Linked DNA regions of Homo sapiens: all the other regions are linked to region 1. Evidence: fine-mapped expression QTL. A gene starts in region 1. Each other region holds a variant in brackets. All regions are shown on one strand. Distances are from middle to middle. Region 1 holds the start of RIC3 (RIC3 acetylcholine receptor chaperone). Region 2 has its middle 47 kb from the start of RIC3-DT. Region 3 overlaps RIC3 (RIC3 acetylcholine receptor chaperone).

The links. PIP is the estimated chance that this variant, and not a neighbour inherited with it, causes the effect. A credible set is the group of variants that fine-mapping cannot tell apart.
Region 2: its variant is the best candidate, but not a certain one, in a credible set for the expression of RIC3 in whole blood (TOPMed, PIP 0.76).
Region 3: its variant is the best candidate, but not a certain one, in a credible set for the expression of RIC3 in testis (GTEx, PIP 0.65).

The regions. Positions count from the first base shown.
Region 1 is chr11:8,165,255-8,172,237 of GRCh38, forward strand. It overlaps RIC3 (RIC3 acetylcholine receptor chaperone), which reads right to left and starts at 3,771. Exons shown (of 6, transcript NM_001206671.4): 1 at 3,612-3,771. The coding sequence starts at 3,735. It overlaps RIC3-DT (RIC3 divergent transcript), which reads left to right and starts at 3,816. Exons shown (of 5, transcript NR_187234.1): 1 at 3,816-3,935; 2 at 4,631-4,734.
Region 2 is chr11:8,212,464-8,219,446 of GRCh38, forward strand. No RefSeq gene overlaps it. Among named protein-coding and RNA genes, the nearest start is that of RIC3-DT, 47 kb to the left of the region's middle. The variant C/T (reference allele first, on the strand shown) is at 3,765.
Region 3 is chr11:8,106,493-8,113,475 of GRCh38, forward strand. It overlaps RIC3 (RIC3 acetylcholine receptor chaperone), which reads right to left. Exons shown (of 6, transcript NM_001206671.4): 6 at 1-4,645. The coding sequence ends at 4,206. Among named protein-coding and RNA genes, the nearest start is that of TUB, 29 kb to the left of the region's middle. The variant T/A (reference allele first, on the strand shown) is at 3,692.

The DNA.
Region 1 (6,983 bases):
ATTATTCATAATAGCTAAAAGGCAAAAATTCAATGTCCATCAATTGATTAATGAATAAATGAAATGTGGTATATCCACACAATGAAATATTATTCAGCCATAAAAAAAGTACTGCTACATGCTACAACATGGATGAACCTTGAAAACATTATGCTAGTTAAAAGACGTCAGTCACAAAAGATCAGATATTATATGATTTCATTTATACCAAATGTCCAGAACAGGCAAATCTATAGAGACATAAAGTAGATGAGTGGTTGCCTAGGGCTGGAGGTGGGCTGGGGGATTTGTGGAGTAATAGCTAAAAAGTACAGGGTTTCTTTGGGGGCTGAAGAAATATTCTAAAATTGGTTGTAGTGATGGTTGTACAACTCTGAATATGCTGAAACCCAATAAATTGTACACTTTAAGTGGGTGAATTGTATGATATATAAATTAGATCTCAAGAAAGCTGTTATCAAAAAAAAAAAAGACTTCCCTCCTCTATGTTCTATGAAACCTGTTTTTTGGGGTTTTTTTTTTGTTTTGTTTTGTTTTTTTTTTTGGCAGAGTCTCACTGTGTTGCCCAGGCTGCAGTGCAGTTACACAATCACACCTCACTGTAGCCTTGACCTCCAAACTTCAAACGATCCTCCCACCTCAGCCTACAGAGTAGCTGGGGCTACAGGTGCACACCACCATGCCCAGCTAATTGAAAAAAAACAAACTTATTTTGTAGAGATGGGGGTCTTGTTATGTGGCCCAAGCTGGTCTCGAACTCCCAGGCTCAAGCAATCCTTCCACCACAGCCTTTCAAAATGCTGGGATTACAGGCATGAGCTGTCACACCTGGTTTATGAAACCCTTCTTAAGTCCCAATAACACTGACCATTGCATACATGTCTCCATTGTTCCCTGCGCAGACTTGAGTAACTGTGACTGACACTCTTGCATTTATCTGCTAACATGTCTGTTTTGCATTTATCTGTTGACATGTCTACTTTCCTTTACTAAACTGTGGCCGCCTCAAAGCATGGAGTTCGCTCATTTTTTCTTGGAATACATAGTGTCTATACACTATGTGCACAGTATGTGATATGGTACATCATAAATATTTGTTAAAAGACTATCTTAAAGGCTTTCATGTGGAAAGGGAACTGTGCTTGTTTCATGCACATCAATGGGCAAAAATGGAAGACATAACAACATGTATTTTTAAGAATTTTCAAATACTCAGGGTTATTCCTTTCTTCAAAGCAGGGATTTCTGGGTTCTGAGAATTCTCTGAATTGATACTGAAATTCTGAGTACAATAAGAGTATGTACCTTTTTCTAGAGAGAACATACAGTTTTAGGCTGAGTGCAGTTGCTCAAGCCTGTAATCCCAGCACTTTGGAAGGCTGAGGCAGAAGGATCACTTGAACCCACGAGTTCGACACCAGCCTGGACAATACAATGAGACCCCCATCTCAACCAAAAACAAAAAAAATTTTTTTTAATTAGCCAGGCATGGTGGCATGTGCCTGTAGTCCCAGTTACTTGGGAGGCTGAGGTGGGAGGATCAGTTGAGCCCTAGAAGTAGAGGCTGCAGTGAGCTGTGATCATGACTCTGCACTCCAGCCTGGGTGACAGAGTGAGACCCAGGGAAAGGGAAAGAGAAAGGGAAAGGGGGCCAGGAAGAGAGGAAAGGAGGGAGGGAGGGACAGAGGGAGGAAGGAGAGAGAAAGAAAGAAAATACATAGCTTTTATAAGATTCTCAATGGTGTATGTAACCCCAAAATGGTTAAGATTTTTTGCTGCAAGTTTCAGTTACTGGAATGTACCATTCAAGGTAAGTTTTTTCCTAGGTTATACTACTTCAGTAGCTTCTCCTTGTCAAAAACAGAATTTACAGTATTGGTAGCTTAATAATCTTAAAGTATTTATTGACTGCCCATTATATGCCAGGTACTGAAGAAACAGTGGTAAACAAGACAAAGTCCCTACCCTTGCAAACTTACATTCTAGAAGGTGAAGACAAAAAAACAAACAAGTAAACACTTAAGAATATTCCATATCATATAGTGATGCCTATCATGAAGAATATAAAACATGATAAAATAGAGAATGATGGGAGAAAAGAGTTATTTTAGTTAGTGTCATCAGGGGAAGTCTCTCTGAGGAGGTTTCATTTGAGCAGAAATTTGAATGATGAGAAGGGCACTGAGGGAAAAGCACAGCACTTCAGGAATAAAGAGAACTGAAGGTACAAAGATCCTAACATGAGAACACTGAATACCAACACTTGAGTTCTCAAGGGAACAACCCATGTCTAATCTCCACTCTACATTTTCTACAACGTTCAGAAGAGTGTCTCCCACTCACAGTCAATAGTACTTGTTCAAGATAATTCACCATAATGGAAAGTAAAAAAAAAAAAAAAAAAGTTTTCGAAGAATCTTCACTGTTCAGGATCATCATGAATTGACTCTTCTTCAAAGTAGACAATATCATTAGACAAAGCAGGTAAAAATCTTTGGGATTATTGCAATAAGACAGAAAGGAAAAAAAAAGAACAAATACGCAAAGATGTTTTAGAAGTCCGTCCCAAGTGGATAGTCTTACAAGCATAAAGATTATCAGGCAAATTCTGTAAACAGAATTATGTGTTCAACCTGCCCTCCACCCCTAAAGCTTGGTGCTTTGCATTTATAGTGTGTATGATGCTCAAGAGAATGGAACTACAGTCAATGTGCATAAAGCAGACGGAAGTGGATTACAGTTCAAAAGGAGCTGTCCAGCAATCAACAGTTTAAACATTACTGGAAGTGTTCAGACACCGTAAAATCATGTCTCAAAGATATTACAAGGATAATTTACAGGAGAAAGTTACCAGTAGAACTTCATGACCTATAGAAAACTGTTCTGGTTCCTTCTCCCAGCCTTCAGCACCGTGCCTTTACACTCATTCTGTAAAAGGCCCCAGTGCAGCTAAGAGGATGAATTTTTAAACACCACATACATCATGCCAACAACGAAGAATTAACAGATAAATACTGTTTCAATAAGGGGAACGTAATAATTTGTTCATAACCACCTCAGTAACTGAAACTGGGGTTATTAAAATCTTCAAGATATATTTTTAAAGGCACAAGAAGAGCCTGAAGCAGTGAGCGCCCAGCACCAAGTTGAAAAAACATAACGACTTAAGGTTTGCTGTACCAATTCCATTTGCCTTGATTTCGTACCAAGCGGCGCGTCAGAAAGTACACGGAAAACCTAAAGAGGGAAACCCAACTGGGAACCCTTGACTCAAAGCACGTGAACAAATGGTGACGAGATGAGTTAAGCCAGCGGGGTAAGAGAGAAGGGACTGCGCCTAAACGGGAGTACGCAAGGCCACCTAGAGGATGCACAGACCTGCATGCATACGTTCCTGACCCTTCCAGCAGCAGAACCATCTGGGCCGCCACCCGCTGATAACAACGGAACCGTGGGCATTGGCCCTTCAACGCCGTCTCGCCCGCCCTCTCCAGTCAGTTTGGTGGATATTTCGGTGAAGGCTGCAGACTCTCAGAGTCACCCCTCCCTCAAGCAGCGTTCTCCGTACTCTTCGGCGCCGGGAAGCTCAGAGGGAGCTGGCCTGCTCTTACCTTCAGGTGTCGGCGGCGGCTCCTGCCGCTTCCCGCGGGACAGGAAGGCCTTGGGCAGCAGCAGCGACAGAGCCAGGACAAGCCCAGAAGCCAGAGCGACTCTCTGCACTGTGGAGTACGCCATGACTGCTCACGGTGGTCGCAGGTGCAGACGCCAGCCGGAACCGGAACCGGAACCGGAGCACGGGCTGCCGCTCCCGACCGAACCGCGGGCGGCGCGGACGGCGTCGCGCGAGGGACAAGGTGCGCGAGGCGCACGCATCTTCACCTCCACTGTCGGGAGTTGACCTGCTCCTCCCGCGTGGTTACCCGTCGCTGTAAATGGTACCCTCGCCTTCCCGTTCATACTAACTAAAAACTCCTCCCTCACTCCCCATGTTCATCTTTTACTGAGTCCTGTGCATTCTACCGCCTACACATCCGGCGGTCGTGCCCGGATCTCTATCCCCACTTACCACCACTGCCCCCCACCCACCCGTAGATCACAACATCCAGTTTCTCCTCATCTCCATGATCTCGCTGTCTTCCAGCTTCCACTCATGCCCCTCGCATTCATTATCCGTCTGCAGCCACAGGTGATAATGCTAAAACACAAGACTAATTCTCTTTCTCTCCAGCTTAAACCTTTTAACTCTCCATTATCTTCAGAACAATAGTTAAACTCCTTTCTATAACCTCAACGCCCTGCATGATCTGGTCTTACCAATGCTCCTTCCAAACTGGATGATTTGCTATTTCTTTAGCATATTGCTTGTCTTCAGGGAAGCTTTGCTTGTCCTGTTCCCACTGCCTGGAAAATTCCTGACACCATCTCCAGTTGTCAAAAACTTCTCTGAAGAACAGCTTAAAAACACTGCTCTCTCGAAACGTTTTCAGTCAGCCTCTCCTTTCTCTACAATCCCACCGTTCTTTGTTACTCTCTTCATTCGTTCATTTAACATTATTTTAGTTTTTACTATGTATTAGACCCTCAACTTGGCACTACAGGGTCTGATGAATAAAATGGATTCCCTTTGTAGGACAGATAATTATCCAAACAAAAAAAATGCAGGAAATATTCTGGATCCCCGAGCAGTCTTCTCAACTGGTACGAGGAAAAGTCAAGAAAAGCCCCTTTGAGAAGGTGAAATTGAGTTAGCTGTTGAAAAATGAGTAACTTATAGGCAGACAGGTGGGAGGGGTTAGAAAGGTATTCCGGAAAAAGGAGGCCAAAAAAATAAAGGCAAATCTGGAAGCTTCCTGGTGTGTTCAGAAAGCTATTGGTAATTCATTTTGGCAGGGCCATAGAGTAGTGACAGGACACGAAGTGCACAAATATAAGCAGGAGCTACATTGTGAAAAGCTTAGGTAGAACTTCCAGTTAAACATGACAGATGTAACATATGCATTTATCTTTGCTTTCCTGGGACAGTGCCCAAAAAGGAAAATAAAGAAATAAAGTATATAAACTACAAGACTAAATGCAATGATAGAAAACATGACAGCAGATGAGAAATGTCAATTTTGTAAGACGCACACAACACTGTCCAATAGACACATAATACCAGCCACATATGTAATTTAAATTTTTCCAGTAGCCACATTTAAAAAGTAAAAATAAGTAAAATTTATTTTAATAATATTTTAAACCAAGATAGCAAAAATATTTCAAATTTTATCAGCACGATAGTGTGGCTCGTTGGCGCCCACAGTAGACAGTGCAGGTGTAGAGCATAAAAAGTTAAATGCCTGTGGACTGAAAGCCTGTAAGGAGTGAACTAATTTGCCCCTCAGAACCCATGCTCTTAAGAATTGGAGGTACTGGGTTCCTTTAAAGCCAAGGGTGCAGAGTGGGTCTGAATGAAGGATTGGCTGGAAATCTGATTAAAAAGCAGTTGAGACTGGGCACAGTGGCTCACACCTATAATCCCAGGGCTTTGGGAGGCCAAGGCTGGAGGATGGCTTGAGGCCAAGAGTTCAAGGCCAGCCTGGGCAACATAGGGAGAGCCCTAATCTCTACCAAAAAAATGTAAAAAATTAACCAGGCATGGTGGTGTGCACCTGTAGTCCCAACTACTCAGGAAGCTGAGGTGGGAAGATCACTTGAGCCCAAGAGTTTGAGGCTGCAGTGAGCTATGATTGTGTGAAACCACAATTAATTATGATATATAAGATGATAATAATGCCTGAATGAAGCCAGTAGGGGCACCCACTCCAGCCAGGGTGACAGAGTGAGACCCTGTCTCTAAAAAAAAATTGTTTGATTTTTTTAAAGCAATGGATATCTTCTGAATCTCTTTCCTTGATTCATGCAGCCAGATGGGTGCCACTGCTGGCTTCACTCGGGCATTATTATCATTGATGTTATTAACATCACTAAAAGTTAGAGTACTAATTATGTTTTAGGCATCTTACATATCATAATTATTCCTCCCAATAACTTCAAGAGGTAAGCAATATTATTATATACCCATTTCACAGGTAAGAAAATGGAGCCCCAGAAAACATAATTTACTTGCCAACAATTACACAGTATAAACTGGATGCTATGATTTGAACACAGGCATGCTTACTCAAGAATTTGCCCTCTTAGCTACCAGGTTTACTGTCTGGGGAGGTTTAGTCAGAAAACCTCTGGACTCCTGGACTATAGATGCAGCTTAGGGAGGAGGTGACTAATGGGATGTGGTCTCTAAGAAATACAGAGGGGTCTGGAATGACCACACTCCCCCCCGCCCTCCGCCACCAAATTCTAGCTTGGGTAAATGGTAGACATTAATTCTATATAACATGATTTTAAGAATAGAAGAATCAGGTTTGTGAGAAAGATGAAGAGTTCAGATTTTGACTAGCTGAATTTGAAGTTCCATGAAATATCCAAGTAGAAATATCCAGTTGGATATATGGGCCTGGAGCTCAGAAGAGATGTTTGGGCTAGAAACAATAGGAAATCATCAGCCCATCTATAGTAAATGAAGTCTAGGAGAAGATGGCATTAGTGAGAGTGCTCATGTGAAGTTGTAAGAAGCCACAATGGAAACCTAGGTCACAACATTATGTTGAAGTTCCCATGTATGAGGACAGAAATGAGGTGGGAAATAGTGATCCAAGTGTTAAAATCTTTAATGAATGTGGAGTTACTACAAGGTTGGAAGGTGACAGGAACAGAAGAAGTAATGGGCAGCCAGATGACATGCTCTTCTAAGGAGCTGTGTTTTTTTTTAATTGTTTAAAAATTTTTATTTATTTATTTATTTATTTATTTATTTTTGAGATGGAGTCTTGCTCTGTTGCCCAGGCTGGAGTGCAGTGGTGCAATCTCGGCTCACTACAAGCTCCGCCTCCTGGCTTCACGCCATTCTCCTGCCTCAGCCTCCCAAGTAGCAGGGACCA
Region 2 (6,983 bases), 47 kb after region 1:
CAATTTGGATACCTACACACCCTAGACCATTAATAGGGTCCAGGTACACTTCTTTGTTTTGGACTAATCATCTGTGGACTGGAGCTTCAAAGTCCCCTAAATGTCCACTACAGAGGGTGTCTCAGGTAGATGCTGTCTTGTTCCTGTGAGTGAGGAAGGCGCTCATGCTTTGGCTCTAGTTCAACCTCTAAACCAGACGTGGATGCATTGCTTCCTCCTAGATTTACCTAACAGAAATTCACAAAATTCACAAAATTCAAAGCTAATTATTACCAGAGGAATACATATTCCTCCTGGTTACCTGATTTTAATTTCTCTCCAATAATTATTACCTGGAATTATTATGCCAAAGTAAGTGTTTACCTCATTTCTCAACCTGTTTTTATTGTAGAGGGACCTTCCACTAACAGAAAATGCCCCATATGAGCCATTTGGGATATTGGCATCATTCTCAATTCCTTTCTCAATGAGCCCCAAATACCCTGGTGGTGGGGGGCTGAGGAGGTAACCACAGTTCACTTCATTTCATCAGAAATTATTTGCCCAGTGTGAACACCTTTTCTTTGGCCATTTTATTCTCTGTGCTTGAAGATGCCTTGGGAGCAGAGAGTGGATAAAACTCAAAGCAGGCCTAGGACGCAATGACTGGATGGAAGAACTTGCCTTCTCTATCCCCAAGAGGGTTCTAGTACTTACTGAATGGAGAGAAAAACAAAAAAGTCTGGCAAAGGCTCATGAAGAGCAAGTCATGAAAAACTCATTCCTCATCTGTACAATAGAAGAAGCTGCAGGTGTCCTCACCCCTGCTGTCTGCCCTGTCCCCATTCCTGGTGTCTACTGCCAGACTGGAGTGCGGTGGTGTAATCATGGCTCACTGCAGTCTTGACCTCCTGGGCTCAAGTGATCCTCCTACCTTAGCCTCCCAACTAGCTAGGTGCACACCATCATGCCCGGCTAATTTTTAAAATTATTTTTGTAGAGACAGACTCCTGCTATGTTGCTCAGGTTTGAACTCCTGGACTCAAGCAATCCTCCCACCATAGACTCTGAAAGTGTTGGGATTACAGGCGTAAGCCACTACTTCCTGCCATGATTCACTCTTTATGTCACTGCAGAGTGATTTCCCAAAAAGTTCAGGCCTTATTGTGCCTTTGTTCCACTTACAAAGTTTTGACATTTCCTGGTTGCCTCCAGGGTAAAGGTCTATCTCCCTGGCCTGGCACGAGAGCCCCTTCCAGCAGGCTTGCTGCTTTCCTCCAAGGCCTCTGCGTTCTGGGTTGCAGGTGCATTGAGTGCTTGGTCACCCTCCAACTAAGCCCCACTGTCTCCCACTTCTGTGCCTTTACCTGCTGCCGGGCATACTCATCCTTCCACGTTTGATAGTTCAAGTGTCCTTCCCTCTGAAACCTTCCCTTCTCCCAGGCAAAGTTAGTCACCTTCTCTTCCTTCTTTCTGAAACCTCTGTTCAGAGCTCTGACATGACGCCAATCACACTGAGTTATGACTTTTTAACAGGCTGGCTCCTGACTCCCCTCCTTTCTGTGAGATTTCTTGAGGGCAGGGGCTTTGGTTCATTTGTCTTTTCACCTTTCTTGCCTTATACTACATTACACACTCGACATACCTTGGATAGACAGAAATCTGGATGGAAGGAAGAATGGCAAGAAGGATGGATGGACGGATGCGTTGATGGATGAATTAAATCAACATCACTTTTTTTTCTGCCTAGGTCACTAGACTGCTCTCAGGGATGCTTTTCAGTGTCTGGATTCTTGGTAAGTTCCTTCATAACCTCATCCACGCTTGTGATGGAAAACTGCATCTGACGTGATATTACTCAGCTGTTTGAAGAATCACTCCCAAAAGAACACCAAATAATGGTAGTATGATAGGAAGTACTGCATGGCCAGCCACAGGGTTTTGCCCCAGGCCATATCATGCTCAATTTTTAGCCAAGAGAGTGGTCACCTCCACTTGCAATGAGCATTATTACCCCTTGGCAGAGGTGTGTTTCAAAACATCACACCATTTTGCTAGACTCTGCCACCTGCTGAACCTTTCTGGTCTATCGGGCCTCAAAGTCCTCCCCAATAAACAGTGCTCTTTAACCCTAGTTCTATTCCCTGTGCCCCAGGACACAGACCATCCAATATCTCCATCAACTTTACTCCCTTTACCCATAGACCACTTCACTACTTCCAATAAGCCCCCTCACCTCCCAGCACATCTGGCTGCCTGCTCCTCCCTGAGCCCCCCTAGCACTGCTAGGTCTTACATTTGCTTTTGTCTCAGCCTGAAGTGTCCTTTCTCTGTATCTCCATGCAGATAAATCCTAGCCCCAGCTCCAATAAGCCCGTTTTGCTCCCTGGGCCCCAGCCTGAGCCACCAAAAGCATTCTTCCTTGATACTCCTGCTTCACAGCAGGTCACTGTGCCCTTACAGAGGTAGGGCTTTGCTAAGTGAGAGCCAGTAAGGTTACCTATGGTACCCACAGGAAAATACATTTTCCAAGTGTCCATAAGATTCACAACTTAGAAAACAGCAGTGGACATGTGTGCTATGCCCGGCTCATAACGCGAGCTCTCTATTGCCTACTACATAAAGGCTTAAACTCTTCTGCTCAGCTTCCAATTCCCTGTCCCCCACTTCCATTCTAGGCACACTCCACTTCCCAGTGTCCCTTCTTCTGTTTTGACAAGTCAAGATTACAGGCTTCCCTCTGTACCTGTAAGGCCGTCCCTCATATTTCTAGCTAGTCTTTCTGTAAGAAGCAGCTCAGTACTTGCCTCTTCTCAGATATTTTCTGCCACGTGGGCCATCTCCTCTTCAGAATTCTCACAACACAATATCCATGCATCCACTCTCACCATGTATTGCTTCTATTAGTGGTCTACACTAAGGTACAGAGCAGGCACCCTGTCCCAAGAGGAAGGAGAGCTGATTCCTCTTCTGTCCTCTGCATGATCTAACTACATTACAATATATTTTATGTCCTTCCCTGTAAACTGGGACTCTTAACCTGTGTACTCCCAGGGAGACTGGGAGACAAAATATAGCAATGGGAGTTATAGGGCTTTAATAAGCAGAAACATTTCTATAATGGGTTGTTGTCTTTGGCCCCACTGGGTGGGTAAGTTCCTAGAGGGTAGAAACCTGTAACCGCTAATATAAAAACGTAGATTGCCCACTAAAAGCAAGGGGCCCTTGATATTCTGCCTCTAAGGTCTCTTCAGGCCCAAGGGCATTATTTTGCTGGACAAAGGTCTACTGGTCAGTGGTGGGGAAAGGTGGAAGTGTGCATTCTAACAGGGAATAAAGACAACCAGAAGTATAATGGGGATCTGGTCCCTACCCAGATGGGATCAGGAGCCCAGAATCTGCATCTATCTTGGGACTCTGGAACCTGTGCCCCTTCCTTTATATGAAGTCTTTATCCTGGCCTAAATGTTTCTCTGCAAAGATCAGAAAGCAAAGCTTGAAGGTGTACAAGACTAGGAGAGTGTCTGAAGGGGAGTGAAGAATATGGTGTCCCATTCTTCAAAGCACTGCTGGTGTTGAGGGTCACCAGAGACAAACTCAGTGATGGAAGGCAGAGTCTATTCCTGCTTGGCCCAGGGATCACATTGGGAAGGCCTTGGGGTCCCCAACAAAATAGATCATGCCACTTTTTTGCTCTATATTACCCCTTTGACAAAGCTTGGCTGTGAGCTAAACATTGGGGTCCATCTACTGCACACCACCAATCTACAGCCCCCTACCAAAGG[C/T]GGGGTTGGGAAGAAAGCATGCAGAAACAGTCCACACCAAATGTCCCATGGAATGGGACTCACAGTTTCCAAGAATGTGGGAGAGGGATGAACCTCAAAGATTACGTTGCACAGCCCCATGCTGCATAGAGAGAGAGCAGAGCTAAATGGAGTCCAGAGCCTAGGTTAGAGGCCCTATGCTAAAGAAAAAAGATGAGAGCATCCAACCCCCTATGGGATTTAAAATAAAAATATCTAAACTGCAAAATAAAGTTATGTTTTTGAAATGAAACAAACCTTTATATATAACATATATATGACAAACATATATATATGCTGAAATTTTTAAAGTGCTCCTTTTTTGATAGCCTGAGTTTTTAATTTGGTTTTTCCACTTTGCTTGTCCCAGGCAGGGGGCAGAGGGGAAGAAGACAATTAAGGATAATGTCAGCATCATTTTCTGGAGTCTGAGGCACCTGGGCGGAGGCCCCCTTTGAAGAGCTGAGCTGCTTCTGGAGGTAATGAGTGCTGGTTTTCCAGGGAAAGGCCACGCCGTATTTGTTGGGCGTGCTTTCCACCACCTCTTCCACTCTGTGTATCTGCTGATGAGCCCAAGGGGCTCCATCTTGGAAACTCCAGGACCACAAAGAGCTCCAATGAGTCCTGAGAGCCTGACCTGGTTCTCCTTCCTGTAGGACATGCTCACGTTTTGGACTTGGTGGGGGAAGTTTTGCAGTTTTGCAGCATGACGGCCCTAGAAGGGGTGGTGCCCACCATTCAAACCTGGTTTTGTCTTTCCCCTTCTCAACATTTCTCCATCCAACCCCCACAACCTGCACGCATCCTGCCTCCGGCTGCTTTAGGCTCAGCCTTCCAGAACTTACCGGGATGTCTTCCTGGAGGGAGAAGAGCCTCTGATGCTTCCCTTGCCTCCCTTCCCAGCCTGGGGAGGCTTCTTTGGGGAGCCACTGCTGGAGGTGGGGGTGGGTGGGAGGACAAGAGCAGGCCCCTCTCAGGTGGGAAATGTTTTGTAATTAGCCTTAATGAGGAGGGAAGGGTAGTCTATTTCATTGCAGGGAAATGGGATTTTTAAATCATTTTAAGGGCTGCCTCAGCTCTAAAATGGCCGTAGTGGGGCCTCAGAGGGGCTGGTAATTAGCTCTCTTGTCTCTAATGAAAGCAGAGGGACAGGATGAGGGGTCATCTAATAAGCACGGGGATTAGCTTCCAGATAGGCCCTAAATAAGAAGGCAGGTGCAGGGGAGGGTGAAGGAGAGGTTTGGGCCAGCAGAGCTCCCGGCTGAGGGGCAGCAGCCCACGGGAACTCAGAGAAGGGGGTGCCCACCCCAACCGTACTTTGTGCAAAGTCACCCTCACTCCTTCACTGTGAGAGAGGCTAGGAATGGATGGTGGCCTGATGTGCCTGGACCAGGAGCAAGGGGCCCTACCATCACCTTGACTGATTTCAGGAACCCATAGACCTGAAAGCCCAGGTGAAGCAGGGAGGGGAGTCTACAGGACCCAGACAAAACAACCTTTCCCTCAGGGGGTGCCTAATGGGCATGTCATTGGCAGCAGACAGGAGCCACCACACCTCGGCCTGTGATGCACAGCTAAGAGAAACCCACCTGCCTCGGCCCAGCTCTCCCTGCCTTGGCCCACCTCTCCCTGCCTCGGCCCAGCTCTCCCTGCCTCGGCACACCTCTCCCTGCCTCGGCCCACCTCTCCCTGCCTCGGCCCAGCTCTCCCTGCCTCGGCACACCTCTCCCTGCCTCGGCACACCTCTCCCTGCCTCGGCCCACCTCTGGACCCCAGGAGCCAGGAAGGTCCAACAGAGGCCCCAGAGGTGAGCCTCAGCTCAGAGCTCCTCCCCCATCAGAACTAACCAGCCGGGCTGAAAGAGGCAACGGCCGGAGAAAAGGAACAGGAGAGCTGGTCCTGCCAGTTCCTGGCGTCCTGCGGCCCTTTGGGCATTGCACATTCCTGCTTTTACAGTGAATTGTTTTTTCCCCAGAACACTACTCGTGCTGAGTCTGCAGAGAATCCTGCCTTCTTAATGCATACGCTATACAGGGCAGTCACTCCAAGTGTCTGGAACAATCCCACTGGAATCCCCAGAAGCCATGGATCTAGTCAATGTGTCCCAAGTTGGTGGCATTATGGGGCAGGCAGACTGGTGGTGGAAGCCAAGAACCCAAACCCAGTTTCTTGGCATTTTAAGGAGTAATGTTTCTTATTAAGTGGCAAACAAAGGAAGAGAAGCACTGAGCAGGTGTCAGGGCTGAGTGGAGTTTCCTTTCCTCCACCCACTGTGTGCCCCAGGAGGATCCTTGGCTGGAACGCAAGTCACAGGATGTAGGACACAGAGCCCTGGGCCAGGCTGAGGGCCAGGAACCCAGACTCCCAACCCAGGCTGGTTCCAGTGTGCCCCTGGCCATCACTTCCTCTCCGGGCCCCAGTTTCCCCATAGTGAGCCCATCGGATAAGATGGTCTCTAAGGGTGGTGGGCAAGAAACTCTCATCCCTGCCCACTCTCTCTGAGTAGACTTCCCTCCAGCTTCTCCCTGCCACCCGGCACTGTCTTTAGCCTGTTATTGATCTTTTTATTTGTTTATTGTCTGTCTCCCTCACTAGACTGTAAACCACACAGAGAATGACCTTGTTCACTGGTGTTTCCATCCCGTAGCCTGCTTCCAGCACCGTGCCTGGCGTATAGCGTGGTCATGTCTGGGACGGACTGACAGAGTAAGGATGCACTGGGGCCTGCCCCACTGATAAACCTCCAGTTCAGGCATGGGACAGGCTGCCTGCACCGCCTCTGGTCAGCACCTGGAATTGCTCGTCCCACCCAGCAGCCAGCACAGGCCAGGCCCGGTGACATGGTCATGCAGGATGTGCAGTGAGGAACGTTAAGTGTCCGAGGACCCTTCCCCTCTGTGGATCAAGCCCTCGCTAGGGCATGAGTTGTAGAGAGAAAAAGGGGTGCAGACTGGGAGAGGATCTGGGGGTTTAGTGAGGATAAAATCTTGCCTTTGCCAAGAGAGTCTGGGCCCCTCAGAGGTTCCAGAGCCCGTTGGCTGCCTGTGGCACCTGGGCTGGGGTCTGCGCTTCCATGGTCCCCATGCCCTCTCCAGGACACCACATTCCAGAGAGGAGCTGGTTCAGGGGCTCCTGCCTGGGGCTCTCTTTGCAGACTCACCTCCTGGATCTGCTCTGGAAGCACTCCCAGATCCTTCCACT
Region 3 (6,983 bases), 59 kb before region 1:
TTAGAGCAGTTCTCTTCAGGGTCTGCTGTGCCGCCTGAAGGGGCTGGTGGTTCCTCAGTATCCCCTGTGGGCCTGGCCTTAGGAAGAGAACAGGGCTGTAGAGATGAAAAAGGTATAAAAGACCCAACCACTTGATGTCTCAGGGCTTGCTTGGACCCTAACCCATTTAAACAGGACCTCGAGATGCTTAGGAATCTTTTTTTGTTGCCGGGCAGCTGTGGCAGATTTGAAGGCAAAAGGAAGGGAGGCTACAGTTGTAGCTAGAAGCAGACATGAAAGCTAATGGTCTGACCCAGACAAGAGGTTATAACTAAAGGCACCCGGAGACTGCAGAAGGGCCCTGGGCCACTCCTGGCAATCAGGGTAGCCTTAGAGGGTGTCAGGTGTGACATCTCAGCAACACTGGACTTGACAGAGTGGTGACAGGGATCATGCTGTCACCAAGCACCTACCACATGCTTTGCCCTGGCACAGACACTTTATAAACAGCATCTTATTTAATCCAAACAGCCCTGTAAATAGAGCATTATTCCCAATTCATGGGGAAACTGGTTCTCTGAGAGGTTAAGGAATGACCTAAGAGGAGAAATTTGGGCTATTTTCTTTGTATAAAAAAAGGGAAATAAAGGAAAAGGAAGCACATTTTAGAAAAGTCAATGGTCAAGGCAAAGTCATAAATGTGTTCATGTTTTTTCTCAATATTGCTGAATAGCTAAAGCACTAAATTTTTCTTTGGAATACAAATAGTCCAGATTGAAGAGAACTTTGAGAGTGTGGTAATAATTCGGGTTTGTTTATTCCCCCAGATCTAGAGTTCTGATGTGACCAAGAGCATTTCCTACCTGAACCATGGCCTATCTCCTGTGGCCTCTGCCTCTGGTGGGAAATAGCGCATACAGGATATTCTAAAAAGGAAAGAGGGTTTTGTTTGTTTAGTCATCAGGTTCAAAAATCTTAAATGGCTATAGACAGGGGTGACCCTACGTCCAGGACAGTCTTAGTTTATGCCTATCACCTTGGCATAATTATATTAAAGCTCCCTTTTTCCAAAGTGTTTGAATTTGGACCTTAAGTTATTTGATCACCCAAGCCATATAAGGTGCATTGTATGGTTCTCAAAGGCCGTTGATTCTACAGGCCAAATACACCTCCACTCCTCATCACGACTCCCTGGGCCCAGCTTCTGGAGCTAGTCATGGAGATAATGGTTTCTTTGTGCTCCTGTTGTGACCAGGAAAGGGGATCTCCTGGCTGCACCACCCACCTGATTTACCAAGAGTGATCCCAGATTATGCAGTTGTTTTGTGAGCTAACTGTCCATAAAGGTATGACTTGTGTACTCTGCCACAGTGCCAAAAGGCCAGGGGACTGATCAAGTTCCCAGCACCCTCGTGAGAAATGAAGACCGCAAGAAAAGAGACAGCAGCCCTGGCAACAAAAACCGGACCCATGATTTTGTCATCCTGGGTTGTATATACACATATAACTGTCATCCCCGAAGGATAAAATAATTCTGGAAAATCCAAAAAGAATTTTCTAAATCCTAAATAACTGAAAGGTACATCCAAATGTCTGATATATAAATACACAAATATATTCCTTATATATAAACCAACCAAGAGCTAGGGCAGGAAGAACCACCATAAGGGCTTAGTACTTCTGGCAGGAATTTCCATAAGCCAATTTTCCCCAAAGACCAACAACACTTTACATAACAGCCTCACCAAAATACTTGAACATCCATGTATTTTCACACCCTACTGCTTTTTTCAACAACTCTTTCTGCCAAGAGTGTCCTCTCTTCTTTGCCTACCTGAAGAAGTTCTTTGCATGCCTCAAGGCCCACCTCCCAAGAAACTGTGAAGTTTCTTGGCAATACTTTAGCAAAAACAATTTATCTTTCCTGTAGTTTTGGGCCCATGTCTGAATTACAGCATAGCCCTTATAATAAAAACATAATTACCACTTAATGAGTGGTTATCATGTATGAGCTAGAACCAATGCTGTTTTACACACACTGATGATTTCATTTAACCAGGACCTTTAATACCCCTCCCTTTACTACCCTGAAGCCAAAGCTCAGACCAGTTAAGGAGCTGACCCAAGATTCCACAGCTAGAAAATGCAGGGACAGATTATGGCTCATGTTTCTCTGCCTGCAGGATTCACGATCCTGAGCCCTCTTACAGGGTCATAGTTCATTTTATCTGTCAGGCTCTCTCTCGTCACACTGAGTTTTCTGAGGGTAGAGATTGAGCCTCTGTTCCTAGCACCTGGCACTGAGCAATTGACTGCTAAATGAATGAATGAGCTAGAAGAGAACAGCAGTATTTATCTCTAATAAGGGAATCCTATCCTAAGGCCAAAAGTAAACCTGAGCCAGGAACCCAGGGCTCTCCTCATGAATCAACCCCTCACAGTGAACGAAGGGAAATAACACAGAAAACAATTTATCTAAACAGTAAAGAGCACCTGTTATTTTTCACCTTTCGTGTACAATACATCTAGATTGCATTCAGTATATTTTAAACTGCATTCTTCACAATGTGAATCAAATGTTCTACACAGAGATAGATGCAATATGCTTTCTATAAACTCAGTCTTGAATGACTTTCTGTAACTCAATTAACAATAAATGCCTAGTAGTAGCTGACAGATTATCTTAATATGATCCCATACCTTCTAACAGCAGTCTGTATGCTGATGTATAATTTTAAACTGTTTTCCTGGCACCTTATTCATGCCAAGCATAATGTAACTCTAAAAGCCATATCTACCTTTACATAATGTCTTAATTTTCCAGTCTTCTACATTTCATGACTGGGAATGTCTTTGGGAATGTGCCCTCTTCGAACTCTCAGGTCTTACATGTAAACTGAATTCACACATACCTCATGATGTAATTCATGGGTGCTATCTTGTCTCAAGAAGACACACGTCAGATGCAGTAAGGAGAAAAGGCCTTTAGTTTGGTCAAAATCCTCCCAGTCTTAATCTAGTTGCTGCTACTTTCCCCAGCTCTCTCAAAAAGACCCAAATATCCGAGTATGGAACACATGGTCTCTACCCCTGGGCACTGCTATATTGGTTCTCTGCAACAGACATACTCCAACTTCCCTCTTGAGTTGGCACTTTGTATACAAGATCAGTCCTCATTTGTTTCAATTTATGGTTCTGAGAAGAAATTTCTCAAAGGGTGCAACATTCAGAAACAGCTTTAGGTAAGGACTGTCCATAAGCACACAGATTCTCTCCCCTATTGCTGGCTTCCTGGCCTTCTGAGCTCCTCATGGCAGGAGCAGAATTCACAATCTTGAGCCCTCTTATAGGGTTGCAGCCTCCTCATGGCAGGACCATCCCTGGGCAGGGCTTCCTGCAGCTTCAATGGCCTCAAGTCTTGACTCTGCAGGGCAGGGTCTAAAGTCTCTATCTAAAGCTTCCTCTGTCCACTGAAAACCAGGAGTGCAAAGGTACTTCTGGGCTTGGCAGTTCTGTTAAGCAGAACAGGGGTAAAGGAAGCTAGATATCCAGGTAGTATCAGAGTAAAACAGTCCCCAAACAAGCCTCTGGGCTCATTCTCAGATCAGTGGGAGTCTTCCCTACTCTGGAGAAAAGAGGATGTCTGAGGCAGCATCAATGTTCCTAGGAAGACCCTCGCTGCGAGGAAGAGGCTTCAGCTTAGACAGCAGAG[T/A]CTTACCCTCCTCTGGGCCCATTAGCCCCACAAACAAAATGTTCTCTTCTCACCAGGGGACTACTAACCTGCTCAAGGCCCAAAGAATAAGGGATCTTGGAGTCTGAAATCTTCATTCTTGCAACCTTAAGTCCTCATCATCTGTAAGCTGATGTTCGTTCACAGGTGAACTATCTGTTACACCTACCAGGAAGAGTCAGACCTTTGCCCCTGAGTGGTCCCATCTGTAATTACAATAGACCAAACATAATTACTTAATGGATCAACTTCTCTGATAGAGGAAAGGCAGGAAGAGAAAGAGCGAAGCTGTCCTGTGTTCACACTAATGTCCGTGTTTTACAAGGTGACAGGTGTGTGAGCACCAGGAAGGATACATGATATCCATGATAGTGGCCTGATAGCTATGACACTTGAACACAGTGAAGAAAGTGCAGGGCACAGGGCCAAGAAGGAAATCTGAGGAGAGAGAGGTCACCTTGGGACTTGAGTAATGGATACTTCAGACTGGCTGTTTTCACTCTAAACCCTGGGGGTTACGCTTCCTCAGCATGCTGCCTGTATATGCTTTATCGGTGCTGATGCCCAACCCTTCATCTTTAAAGTCTTGGGACCACTCTTCTTTGGTGGTTTCCTCTTGCTCAGGGTAGCTATCTGCACTGAATCCAGCATTCTCTGCCAAGACAGCAGGATCCTCGTCTTCATGAAAACAGCAGGAACATGTTTCTGGCTTTGGATCACACGAGGTAACAGAATTATCTTCCTGGGCTCTGGGGTCAGTGGGCAGACTTTCCCAACCCAAATGATCTGATTCTTCCTCTTCTATCATTCCCATTCTTTCAGCTATTTCTTCAGCAGAAAGTTCTTTTGGGTCAGGGTAATCCACCAAGATTGTTTCTTGCCTACGCTTGATACAGTCTGAAAGGTCATAAATTGGGTAAGTCTCTTCAGGGTAACCTAGAGAGAAAAGTAGCACAAAGTATTACAAAGAATGTCTCCTCAAAAAAAAAAAAAATAGTGTCAGGTTCAAAGAGGATTCTCAGGCAGCAGCCATCCTATCCTAACAAATCCATTCAAGACATCTCTAAGATTCCAATAGTTCTAAAGTTTTACTTGAGCAAATTCTTAGCAATCTGGCTATCCCAGTGCTCTTTGAAATACAAACTAATTCAGATGAAAATCCCTTCTTATGTGTAGGGTGCTTGGGGCAGAGTTAAGTCTTATACCATGTGTTTTTGCAGTACTGATGAAGATTAAACAAACAACATGAGCCTTTAGTTAAAACAAAAAAAGCATCAAAACCAGACAGAGACAGCACAGCTCCAGGCTAATGTTTATAATTTCTATTTGGAACAATTTCCAAATCTTCCTTGGTGGAGTGGGGAGAGGAAAGGAATGCTAAGCTCTTTGAAAAATACACCATGAAGCTTTCTATTTATCCAAACAATTGAAATGGCTTGCAAGTGTCAAAAATAGAGAGCACTTTAGCAAGGCATGCCCAAGATCCCGAAAGGACAAGCACTGCATTTTCGGAAGACAGAATTCCTGTTGTTGGCTTCTTCATCTTCACAAAATGGAACAAAAGAAAACAACAAACTGGCAAACAAAATGAGTAACACTGGTACTGAATCCCAGCTAGGATAATGAGAAAAGAGAAACTGTTGCCAAATTACCAAACTAAATGAAATAAATCTGTGTCCGCCAAGCAAGCCTGAGCAGCAGATGGGCCGTGCTGGAGCTCACACACCAGTACTGGCACCAGCGGCCGTAATCACGATACAGTGCAGAAAGCTGGAGGATTCAGAACCCATTTGCCCATTATGATAATTGGCAAATTCAACCCTAACGTAAACCATTTTTTGCCTACAACTGTGACAAATAAGTCTTTTTTGGTGCAATGTAGGGTGTGTGTGGAGACATTTCTACATTTACTGCTTTTTCTGACTATAAAAATCATACAGACTCATTTGTAGAAAATTTGAAAAAAATACAGGCTAGTTTAAAAAAGAAAACACAAATCACCCATAATATCTTCACTCATAATAATTTGCTTTTTTCTGGTCTTTTTTTAACCGTATATACACATATATTTTCTTTTCTTTTCTTTTCTTTTCTTTTTTTTTTTTTGAGACGGAGTCTCGCTCTGTCGCCTGCCCAGGCTGGAGTGCAGTGGTGCAATCTCGGTTCACTGCAACCTCTGCCTCCCCGATTCAAGTGATTCTCCTGCCTCAGCCTCCTGAGTAGCTGGGATTACAGGTGCATGCCACCACACCTAGCTAATTTTTTGTATTTTTAGCAGAGACGGGGTTTCACTATGTTGGCCAGGCTGGTCTCAAACTCCTGACCTCAGGTGATCCACCCACCTCGGTCTTCCAAATTGTTGGGATTACAGGCATGAGCCACCGCGCCCGGCCAACATGTATTTTCTTATTCCCCTTTTTTAAAAAGAAGGATCATATTTGTGTATAAAAGGTTATATCCTGATGTTTTTCAATTCAACATTATATCATGAGCATCTCTCCATGTCATTAGGCATTTGAAAGTTGGTTGCAAAATATCTCATCATATAGCTACATAACTGACATGATTTACTAGTCCTCTTTTCTAGGGCATTTAGATTCTTTCCAATTTTCCCCTATTATAAGTAGTATACAAGTTAAGATTTCTTAATATAAATCTATGTCCACTTCCCTAGTTCTTTAAGATAGACTTCTATAAATATGAAAACTAGACCAAAGGGAATGGACATTATAAAAGCCTTTTTTATACTGTGCCAAATTACTTTCCAGAAGAGTGGTATAAATTTTCAATCCTACCAGTGATATAAAGACTGTCCATCTTATGACACCCTCACCAGCACTCACAGTAGTATGTTAAGAATTTTGCCAATGCAGTCTTTATTCCAAGGCTTAACTTACTGCGGATGGAATGCTAGGTAAAGTGGAGCTTAGCTAACCCAAGACCCTCAGCCACCATGGTCAAGGATAGGATCTGGAGAAGCTGCTTGCTAGTCAGCTCCCAGCCACTGAATGCTTAAAAGAAGTCCATTTGCTGGCATGTCCCTGTCTTCCCACACTTAGAACAAAGCTTATCTTTGAATTTTCATGACTATCTGCTTTAAGAGGGAAGGTCACCCAGACTCAGGCTCTCAGCCTACCCCAACACCAGGCCTCAGTCCAGCTCTGCATCCCTAGTCATAATGCCTGCACCCACAGACCCAGCCTCCATGCTGGCCCCTGCAGATACAGACTCCGGGCCCACCCAGCATCAGGCCAGCAACTATGGCCCCAGAATC